3 linked regions of the Homo sapiens genome follow. The protein of the gene in region 3 interacts with the protein of the main gene of each other region in a pairwise test. Each region holds a gene or a part of one and is shown on either strand. Other genes may lie near its edges. The genes, in order: EXOSC7, CPSF7 and UNKL.

Region 1 (3,649 bases), on a different chromosome or scaffold from region 3:
ACAGGCCACTGTGTGGGTGGTACAATAAAAACACGATATGGAAAAACAGGGCAAGGTGGTTTAAAACTAGAATTCAGAGACCAACCAAGACAAAGGCCACCAAGGCTTTCCAACAGAGGGGCACAAGGGAGAAATTCACACACAAGGCCACATGGACGTTTCACTGATGGCAAGGGGGAATCAAGAGGGTCCATGCTAAGGGACACACTCAAGAACAAGCCAAAGGCTGGGCGCAGCGGCTCATGCCTCCCAGCACTTTGGGAAGCTGAGGAAAATGGAATGCTTGAGCTCAGGAGTTTGAGACCAGCCCAGGCAACATGGCAAGACCCTGTCTCCACCAAAAATACAAAAAAATAGCCAGATATGGTGGTGTGAGCCTGTGGTACCAGCTACTTGGGAGGCTGAGGTGGAAGGGTTGCTTGAGGTTGAGCCGGGGCGGGTGGGGGGGTTGCAGCAGAGGTTGCAGTGAGCCTAGATTGTGCTACTGCACTCCAGCCTGGGCAACAGAGCAACACTGTCTCAAAACAAGGCCGGGCGCGGTGGCTCACGCCTGTAATCCCAGCACTTTGGGAGGCCGAGGCGGGCAGATCATGAGGTCAGGAGATCGAGACCATCCTGGCTAACAAGGTGAAACCCCGTCTCTACTAAAAATACAAAAAATTAGCCAGGCGCGGTGGCGGGCGCCTGTAGTCCCAGCTACTCGGGAGGCTGAGGCAGGAGAATGGCGTGAACCCAGGAAGCGGAGCTTACAGTGAGCCGAGATTGCACCACTGCAGTCCGCAGTCCGGCCTGGGCGACAGAGCGAGACTCTGTCTCAAAAAAAAAAAAAAAAAAAAAAACAAATAAACAACAAGAAAGAACAAGCCGGCTAGGTGCGGTGGCTTATGCCTGTAATCCCGGCACTTTGGGAGGCTGAGGTGGGCAGATCACCCGAGGTCAGGAGTTTGAGACCAGCCTGGCCAACATGGTGAAACACCGTCTCTACTAAAAATACAAAAATTAGCCAGGCATGATGGCACGTGCCTGTAATCCCAGCTATTTGGGAGGCTGAGGCAGAAGAATTGCTTGAACCTGGGAGGCGGAGGTTGCAGTGAGCTGAGATCGCGCCATTGCACTCCAGCCTGGGCGTTGCAGCAAGACTGTCTCAAAAAAAAAAAAAAAAAAAAAAAAAAAAAGCCAAGACCCAACATCCTGCCATCCTGTTGTCTGAACACTTCACCACATCCTGTTCATGAAGTGATTTCAGTGGAATTAAACCTGACCTGTTTAGCTTTATTTTGAGATAATGAATCCTGAGTGGAATTAGCTACAATCCCAGTCAATAGCCAATACAGGCCTCTTTGCACAGCCTGGGGCAGCATTAGTTATATATCACATCAGCCTGATGTTCAGCTCCACAGCCCTCTATGTGAAAACCACTCATGATACCCAAGACCTGCTCCAACCTCCCATTTCATAGGGGGGACAGTGTTCGCCACCCTGCCACTACTCAACCACCCTAGACCCCATAGAGTTGAGGTAATTAAAAGACATGGTGCTTTAGTGAAGCACATGGTATGTGGAAGGAGCTTAACAAACTCTGGCTACTATTACTACAAACACACTCATGGCTCCCAGGACCACATCATATCTTCCAATTAAAAAGAAAAGAAAGAGCTACTCGTGGTAGTGGTTTCTAGTATAACCAAATTATTGGATTTGGGTAAAAGCTACTTCTATATGGTGTGTGGTATTACAACTTCTTAACTTATTAAGTAACCTCAGCAGGTTGGGATTAGAGGAGACCCACACCCACAGGGAAGACAAAAACCATAAAATACAAGTTATACCTTGCACAGAGTGACAATGCAGGGGACATTCTCCACACTTAGTCGTATGCAGTCATAAGGGTCATCTGACAATTCAATGTCCTTCGACCCCTCTTCATCCTCCAAAACTCGAACCCTTGGTATCCTGGAAGCAGAAGCACTAGTAAAATTCCCACTTGGAGGAGGAAAAATAACTTCTTTTTAAGATTGAGAATAGGAGTTGGAATCCCTGTGTCTCACAAGAGAAAGACACGCTATGCCTATTCTTTATCATCCTCATCCCTGTCATCCCTGTCAAAAGCACACAGGAGGCGCCGCAGTGCAATGAGGAAAGGCATCTTTTAGAAAATGATGCTGGGTCAATCAGATATCCCAATGGAAAAAAAAGAATCTCAATCCCTACCTCACACCACACACACGAAGCCATACCAAATAGACCATAGATATAAAAAATAAAAGACAAGACAATAAAGCATTTAGAAAAAAACATCTGCATGACCTTGGAGTAGACAACTATTTCTTGAACAGGATACAGAAAGAGAAAAAAGTTACATATTCAATTATAACATCATGAACTTCTGTATATCAGAAGACATCATTTAAAAACTAAAAATATAATCTGGGGAGATAAAATACTACCTGACAGATTACATAAAGAATTCCTATTAAACAAAAAAAAGACAGCCCAACAGAAAAATGGACAAAAGACTCAAACGTAGAATATATTTGGATGTCTTCATAAAAGAGGCTGTCTGAGTAGCCAATAAACCAAGAAAAGGTGCTCAATTTAAATATCTATTAAAAATGCAAATTAAAACTACACTGTGATACCAAGGCACAACCAAAATAACTATTAAAAAAAAAAACAAAAAAAAAAAAACGCCAGGCATGGTGGCTCATGCCTGTAATCCCAGTACTTTCAGAGGCCAAGGCGGGAGGATCACCTGAGGTCAGGAGTTCGAGACCAGCCTGGCCAAGATGGTGAAACCCCATCTCTACTAAAAATACAAAAATTAGCTGGGTGTGGTGGTGCACACCTGTAATCCCAGCTACTTGGGAGGCTGAGGTAAGAGAATCGCTTGAACCTGGGAAGTGGAGGTTGCAGTGAACTGAGATCACGCCACTGCAGTCCAGCCTGGGAGACAGAGTGAGACTCCATCTCAAAAAAAAAAAGCAAGAGTTGACAAAAATGTGAAACAACCCGGAACTCTTACATACACTGCTGGTGGAAGTGTTAACTGGTAAAACACTTTGTGAAACTGGCAGCATCTACCGTAACTAAAGATAGCCATACCCTATAACCCAGAACACTCCTCCCTAACAGAAATAGAGAAATATGTGCACCAAAGACATGCACAAAATGTTCATGATGCCCATCCCTATTTGTAATAGCCTCAAACTGGAAATGAACCAGATGGCCATCAACAGTAGACTGATAAACAACAGCAGACTGGACAGTAGACTGGATAAACAGCAGACTGGACAAAGTCACACAATGGAACACCATACAGCAAAAAGCAAGCTATGACTAAGGCAGCAACACAGATCTCTCAAAACACAATGCTTAGTGAATGAGGCAGACACAAAACAGAACATAGTATATGATACCATTTATATCAAGTACAAAAGTAATCTATTCTTTTAAGATGCTGGTTATCATCAGTGAGTGTAATTGCATGGGGGTACAGAAGGTGTGGGATGCTTCTGGGGTGCTGGCAACATTCTGTTTCTTCAGCTGGGTACTGAAAAACACATTTAACCTATAAAGTCAATTCACTCCAGGCTGGGTTGGAGGAGCCAGGAAGGAAGAGGTGGTCCATCCAGCTACTGTAATGGAAACA
Region 2 (3,649 bases), on a different chromosome or scaffold from region 3:
AGAGAGGAGAAAGCTGATCTGAAAAATTATCTTTAACAGGTTTAGAGGCTTTGTGGTGGATAATTAACTTCAACGGAAGGGTTTTTTGCTTTTGGAAAAGACTTAGTGACAAGGTTGTTTATTTTGTTGTTGTGTTTTTTGTTTTGTTTTGTTTTGAGACAGAGTCTCACTCTTGCCCAGGCTGGAGTGCAGTGGCGCAATCTCGGCTCACTGCAAACTCCACCTCCCGGGTTCAAGCAATTCTCTGCCTCAGCCTCCCGAGTAGCTGGGATTACAAGCGCCCACCACCACGCCCGGCTAATTTTTGTATTTTCAGTAGAGACGGGGTTTCATCATCTCGGCCAGGCTGGTCTTGAACTCCTGACCTCGTGATCCACCTGACTCGGCCTCCCAAAGTGCTGGGATTACAGGCGTGAGCCACCGCACCCGGCTGTTTTTTTGTTTTGTTTTGTTTTGTTTTTGTTTTTGTTTTTTTAATAGACACATTGTCTCACTCTGTCACCCAGGCTGGAGTGCACTGTCATGAGGCACCATCATGGCTCTGTAACATCAACCTCCTGGGCTCAGGTGATCCTCCTGCCTCAGCCTCCTGAGGGCTAATTTTTAAATTTTTTGTAGAGTCTTGCTTTGTTGCCCAGGCTGGTCTTGAACTCCTGGCCTCAAGTGATCCCCCTGCCTCAGCCTCCCAATGTGCTGTGGGATTATGGGCATGAAGCCACTGCGACTGGCTGTAATTTTCTTTTGAAGCAAAATGAAAGCAGGAAGGTTGGGATAAAAACTCTTAAGTAATGGAGAAGTTCAGTTAAGATTGGTTGGATCCAGGGGCTCTGGCTGTGTCATCCAGACTTTATCTGCATCTCTCAGCTCTGCTTTTCTCTGTTGCTTTCATTCTTAGACAGGCTCCATATTGGTAGGGAGTCAGAGGGGGTGCTGTGTCTTTAGGTTGCATCCTACCAGCTTAGCAATCCCAACTGAAGGAAAACTTCTGGAAAGATTGTTTCTATTATATAAGCATATAGGAGCAGGTGTTGTCTCTGCTTCTATGGAAATCTTTAAAATAGGCCAGAGTGGCTAGGGGTCTGTCTGTAGTTCTTGGAGGCTACTGCGTGACCCAGGTAACTTCAGGGTCCTTTCTTAATTTTGTGGTTGCAGATTTATAAGTCTCTAGGACTTCCCATTTCTCTGTCTCACATCAAGTACATTAGGAAGATGTCCTTGGCCGAGCACGGTGGCTCACACCTGAAATCCCAGCACTTTGGGAGGCCAAGGTGGGTGGATCACGAGGTCAGGAGATTGAGACCGTCCTGGCTAACATGGTGAAACCCCGTCTCTATCCCGACCGAGACCATCCTGGCTAACACGGTGAAACCCCATCTCTACTAAAAATACACACAAAAAAATTAGCCGGGCATGGTGGCAGGTGCCTGTAGTCCCAGCTACTCAGGAGGCTGAGGCAGGAGAATGGCATGAACCCGGGAGGCAGAGCTTGCAGTGAGCCGAGATCGCGCCACTGTACTCCAGCCTGGGCGACAGAGTGAGACTCTGTCTCAAAAAAAAAAAAAAAAAGATGTCCTTGATTATTTGCCTGCTTGATCTAAAGTAATGGTAATTGAAAAGGAAGGTGAGGGGAAAGAATAGTAGTTCTTTTTGGTGTCTTTGGGATGGCGATATCTGGATGAAGAAGGACAAAGAAACTCACCACCTGTGAGCCCCTATAGTTCATGAGCAGTAGCTGGAATGTAAATAGTTGGAAAATTAGCAGTATTTTGCCCAGTGACAACCTACTAAAAACCAAAATACTCCTTTTAGGTTTGGCTACTGCCCTCTGTCTTGTTCTTTGGCCATTAGCTTAAATAGATTTATAGCCAGGAATTGTTTTTATCTTCTCCCAAACAAGTAAGTGGAAAGATGAAAAATTACTAATATTTTTTGTCTCTGTTCTCTGTTGTTAGCCACTCATTTATTCCACAAAATCCTAGAGTGCTTAACATCATTGAAATCTAGGTTAACTCATGTAGAATCAACAGTTAGGCTGTGGGCTCCAGGTACTTCTTTCTAGATTTTGCAACAGGTTGAGTTTGGGGAGATGCCCATGTATCCTCTGGAAAAGCAGACGCTATTGTAGATGGAGACCACAAACAACTTTGGCCTAATTCAGTCTCAGGTGGGCATGAGGGCAGGCATTAGAGTTGGTCTTGGTCCAGTCCTAACTCCCTTTTCTTGTTTGAGTCTGCACAGTTGCTAGTGTTACTTGTGGGTTGAAAAGCACATGTAGGCTACAGTGTATGTCTTTTGGAGCTGACTGGGATAAGAGTGAACAGGAAGGTGATGATTGACCTGTGCAGAGCATGCACTGTCGTCTTTGGGGCTGCATTCAGTTTAGTAGTTAGAACATAAATGCATGTCACCATTCCTGATGGCTTTGCTCCTGACAGCCTTATGACAGGGAAATTACCAGCGAGATCCACTGATCCAGCAGTAGTTTGAGAATTAAACATCTCAACCTGAGTCTTTAGCTGTCACTTTGCATTATTTCTTCCACTTATAAAATGGGGCCAGGCACAGTGGCTCATGCCTGTAACTTCAACACTTTGGGAGGCCGAGAGGGGCAGATCGCTTGAGCTCAGGGACCAGCCTGAGGAACATGGCAAAACACTCGTCTCTACCAGAGATACAAAACTAGCTGGGCATGGTGATGTGCTCCTGTAGTCCCAGCTACTTGGGGGTGCTGAGGCAGGAGGAGTCCCAGCTACTTGGGGGCACTTAGGTGGGAGGATCACTTGAGCCCGGGAGATAGAGGCTGCAGTGAGCCATGTTTGTGCCACTGCACTCCAGCCTGGGCAATAGAGCAAGACCCTGTCTCAAAAAAAATAGTAATAAAAATAAAATAAGATGAGACTATTTCTCCCATTATGAGGATAACTCTCTTTTGGTAACTTTGAAAATGCTGTAACAATATTGCCTAGAAAACAGTCATTTGACTTGTGTAGGCCCATGACAAGATGGGAAAAATTAACTCTGAGGCAGGTTTTCTACTTCCTCACTTTTCCTGGTCACCCGTTTGATATAGTGGTTATTGCATCTGAATAATAGTCTGAAAGAACTGAATCAGGCACCCCAAGAATGTCAATTTCTTACATTCTCACCCTAAGGACTCTTAATTCCATCTGTAGTGACCAAGTTATGGCTTAGGAAGTTTCATGTTGGGAAGATGGTACATGGTCCTCATTTATAGCAACCTTTTAGTTAGAAATGAATCATATTTATATTCTATGATGACAGCTGTTCCCTGAGAGTGAAAGGTACATTTTGTCCAGAGGCAGCAATAGAACAGTAGCCTTCTTTGTCCATCTTTTCTCGGCGTAAGACCCAGTTCTGGGGCCTGAAGGCTAATTGGCCCACTTGAAGGAATCTCTGATTTCTGCCTGCATTCCAACATTGGCACCAAAATGTAGCCATGGAGATTTAAGAATTCAGTGCTATGGCTTGCTTCTCTTGGTGTACAAGTTATCCTCTGCAACCTGTGTCTTCAACTTTTTGTAGTTCTCAACTATGTCAGTTATCTCATTATTTTAGGACATTATCCTACTTGAAATATAGTCATTCTCACGTCATTCCTGTCCTCGTTATCCATTGAAAACTGAGCTTT
Region 3 (3,649 bases):
GCAGGGCGTGGACCTGGGGATGAGGAGGTGTCAGGGGGACACAGAGGACTTGGCTCCCCCACCCCGACCCCCGTGCTTCACGCTGGGGCAGGGCATGGACCTGGGGATGAGGAGGTGTCAGGGGGACACAGAGGACTTGGCTCCCCCACCCCGACCCCCGTGCTTCACGCTGGGGCAGGGCGTGGACCTGGGGATGAGGAGGTGTCAGGGGGACACAGGAAAACATGGTTCCTCGTGTGCCCAGGGGTGTCTGCCTCCCACCAGGAGGGGCCTCGGGCATGGGGCCCTGGAGTGACAGGCAACGCAGCTCTGCGCTCACGGACACGCAGGCCCGGCCAGTGCCAGGATGGGGTCAGGAGCCCCGGGGCTGTTCTTCACAGAATTTAACTTGAGTCTCAGTCAGAGCCACCCTCACGGACGTGGAGAACGCAGGGGAGAAGCAGCCGAACCTCCTGGGGACAGTGAGGCCGGGCGCCCAGACAGCACGGGGCTGTCTCCTCGCCAACTTTCTATAAAATGGAAGCGAGAGTTTTGATCCCACAATTTAAAACTCCGCACCAATTTCAAATTACCTATGTTCCTACTGCAGTGAGCTGAGACTGCACCACCGCACTCCAGCCTGGGCCACAGAGTGAGACTCTGTCTCATAAAAAAACAAAATCCTCTACTCTTCGTGGAATCTCTAGCTGCTTTATTGTAACTGATTTGTATTTATGGGACACATTAAGTGCCTGTTGAAAAAATAATTTTTATTTTCTTTCCATGACGGGCGATGACAAAATCTCAGACACTAATTTGTGGTTTGTTCTACAGCCGTTCAGGTCCTTTACTCGGAAGCTGCTCAGAGGGAGACTGAACGTGGCATAACAACAAGGAGTGGGGCGTCCTTCCCAAAGGAAGCACAGGTGCTCTCCGGGGCATGCGAGGCAGCACCAGGTCATTCAAAAGAGGCGAGGGTGGCTCTCTGCTCAAAGGAAGAGCTGGACACAGACAGGGCCTCAGGGAGGCCAAGGCCATGGCCCAGGCATCCAGACACCCTGTGGGGTCTGCACCCCCCCACCCCCCTCTCAGGTGCAAACTGCAGACAGGAGGCAAGCCAGGCCAGGCACAACCAGAAGGCCGGGCTGGAGCAAGGAGGAGAAAGGGGCTTCAGAGGCAAGCAGGCTGCGAGGTGCCAAACCCACAAGCCAGACCCAGGGGACAGCTGGGGCTCAGGCGGTGGAGGAAGGTCCTGTGTGCACCCTGGGCAGGGCGACCCTTGGGTTGTTGGCCCTGGGACTCAGCCTAAGGACCCGGCGTCCCAGCTGCCAGCTGTGAAGACAAGATTGAGCCCAGGTGACGACAGTGCCTGAGCCCCTGGCAGCTTGGGTGAGGAGACAGCATGCAGCCCACAGGCTGGAGAGCGTGGCTGCAACCAGAGGCACGGGTGGGGCACACGGGGGTCCCAGCTGGGCTTGGGGTCCCTCCTGCAGTGCTCCGTCCCCTTGCCTGGCAGAGGGGCCCCGGTAGGGGACTGCATGGGAGACACTGAGCGTAGGTGGGGAGGCCCATCCCCAGGACAGACGCGTGGGCCTCCATGGCACCTCCCACAGCCACTGTGCTTGGAGATGCCCTCCCCTCCCGGGGATGATGGTGCCACAAGGGCAGCCCTCCCATTAGAACCCCGGGGTGGGCAACGCGAGCCACGGGCCGGGAAGGACGCCCACCAGCCGGAGTCCTCTGAGCACGGTCCCGCAGGCTCACCTGTACTGGAACCGCCGGGGGTTGCGCCGCCTGTCCCGGCTATTGTGGTAGTGTGGGCACGCATAGCCCTGGCGGCACAGGCGTGGCGGCTTCGGGCACTGCTCCGTCTTGTAGCTGCCCAGCACGAAGTTGGCATCTGAAAAATGGGCCACACGGTGCCTGAGCAGCGCGACTGGAAGCAATGCTGGGCAGAGGAGACCAAAGGTGGAAGGACCTGGCTGTCCCCCAAATGGAAGGGGCTGCAGGAGGACTTGGGGAGCGCAGACACACGCCACGGCACACGCTGATGTCAAAGGACTCGCGCTCCATGAGGGAAGCCGGGCCAGAAGGCCACGTGGTGTGATTCTGTTTATGTGAAAATGCCCAGAACTAGGGAACCCACAGAGACGGAGTGGAGCCGAGACCACCAGGGCTGGGAGGGAGTCCTGCTGTGGGTGTGCGGCTTCCTTGCTGGGGGATGAAAATGTTCTCCAACTAGAGAGAGGTGATGTGTGCACAGCTTTTGAGAATATGCTAAAATCCAGAGACATGCACACCCCGAAATGCCGCATGGTGAGCCTCATGCGCACCACAGCCTCTGGGTGACAAGCACACATCAGTGTGGGTTCACTGTTGGTAAAGAGCGTACCTCGCAGTGCAGGAGGTGCACGGCAGGGGAGGCTGAGGGGGCAGGGGGTGTTTGGGAAATCTATTTTTCTACTCAGTTTTGCTGTGAACCGGAAACCGCTCTAAAAAATAAAGCCTATTTTTAGAAGTCATTCACTGGGCCGGACGTGGTGGCTCACGCCTGTTATCCCAGCACTTTGGGAGGCCGAGGTGGGTGGATCACAAGGTCAGGAGTTCAAGACTTGCCTGGCCAACACAGTGAAACCCCGTCTCTACTAAAAATAAAAAATTAGCCGGGCATACTGGTGCCTGCCTGTAATCCCAGCTACTCAGGAGGCTGAGGCAGGAGAATTGCTTGAACCTGGCAGGCGGAGGTTGCAGTGAGCTGAGATTGTGCCACTGCACTCCAGCCTGGGTGACAGAGCGAGACTCCATCTCAAAAAAAAAAAAAAAAAAAAAAAAAAAAAAAAAAAAAATCGCTGCCATACGCAATGTCCAGAATACACAAATTCACAGAGATGGGATGCAGGCCAGTGAGTGCAGGGACCAGGGAGGGGATGGGGAGGAACTGCTCATAAGCAGGGGGGTTCCTTCTGCAGGGATGGAATGTTCTGGAACTAGAGAGAGGTGGCAGCTGCACAACACTGCAGACGTGCTAAATGCCACTGGACTGTACACTTAAAAATGGTGCATTTTATGTTGTGTGTATTTTACATTTTTTTTTTTGAAACGGAGTCTCACTCTGTCACCCACACTGGAGTGCAGTGGCGTGATCTTGGCTCACTGCAACCTTCACCCCCCGAGTTCAAGAGATTCTCCAGCCTCAGCCTCCCAAGTAGCTGGGATTACAGGCGCCCACCACCACAACCGGCTAATTTTTTGTATTTTTAGCAGAGACATGGTTTCACCATGTTGGCCAGGCTGGCCTCAAACTCCTGACCTCAAGTGATCTGCCCGCCTCGGCCTCCCAAAGTGCTGAGATTACAGGCGTGAGCCAGTGCTCCCAGCCTTACCACGTTTTTTTTCAAATCAAAATCTCCCCTGCATATAACCTCATCTGTGTGCCAGCCAGGAATGCAGGTCCCCCAGCCCCGAGGGACAGCCCCCTGGTCCATATGTTTCTGGCCAAGCTCAGGGATTTGAAAGCTGCTGTCTAGAGCACCACCCCAGAGAGGCGCAGGGCTGGGGGCTCTGCTGGGCATCCTGGTGGGTGCCTGGTGGGCTGGGGGCTCTGCTGAGCATCCTGGTGGGTGCCTGGTGGGCGCCCCGGCTCTGGGACAGGACGCCTCACGAGTTCCGG

The links.
Region 1: the proteins of UNKL (region 3) and EXOSC7 interact in a two-hybrid assay, tested with the Homo sapiens proteins (one large-scale study listed by BioGRID).
Region 2: the proteins of UNKL (region 3) and CPSF7 interact in a two-hybrid assay, tested with the Homo sapiens proteins (one large-scale study listed by BioGRID).

What each region holds. Positions count from the first base shown.
Region 1 is NC_000003.12:45,003,595-45,007,243, reverse strand, and holds part of EXOSC7 (exosome complex component RRP42), read right to left. Parts: intron 1,954-3,649; coding exon 1,830-1,953; intron 1-1,829. UniProt on the Homo sapiens protein: Non-catalytic component of the RNA exosome complex which has 3'->5' exoribonuclease activity and participates in a multitude of cellular RNA processing and degradation events.
Region 2 is NC_000011.10:61,405,975-61,409,623, reverse strand, and holds part of CPSF7 (cleavage and polyadenylation specificity factor subunit 7), read left to right. Parts: intron 1-3,649.
Region 3 is NC_000016.10:1,397,631-1,401,279, forward strand, and holds part of UNKL (putative E3 ubiquitin-protein ligase UNKL), read right to left. Parts: intron 1,880-3,649; coding exon 1,744-1,879; intron 1,312-1,743; coding exon of another isoform or gene 1,212-1,311; exon of another isoform or gene 671-1,211; intron 510-670; coding exon of another isoform or gene 450-509; intron 1-449. UniProt on the Homo sapiens protein: May participate in a protein complex showing an E3 ligase activity regulated by RAC1. Ubiquitination is directed towards itself and possibly other substrates, such as SMARCD2/BAF60b. Intrinsic E3 ligase activity has not been proven.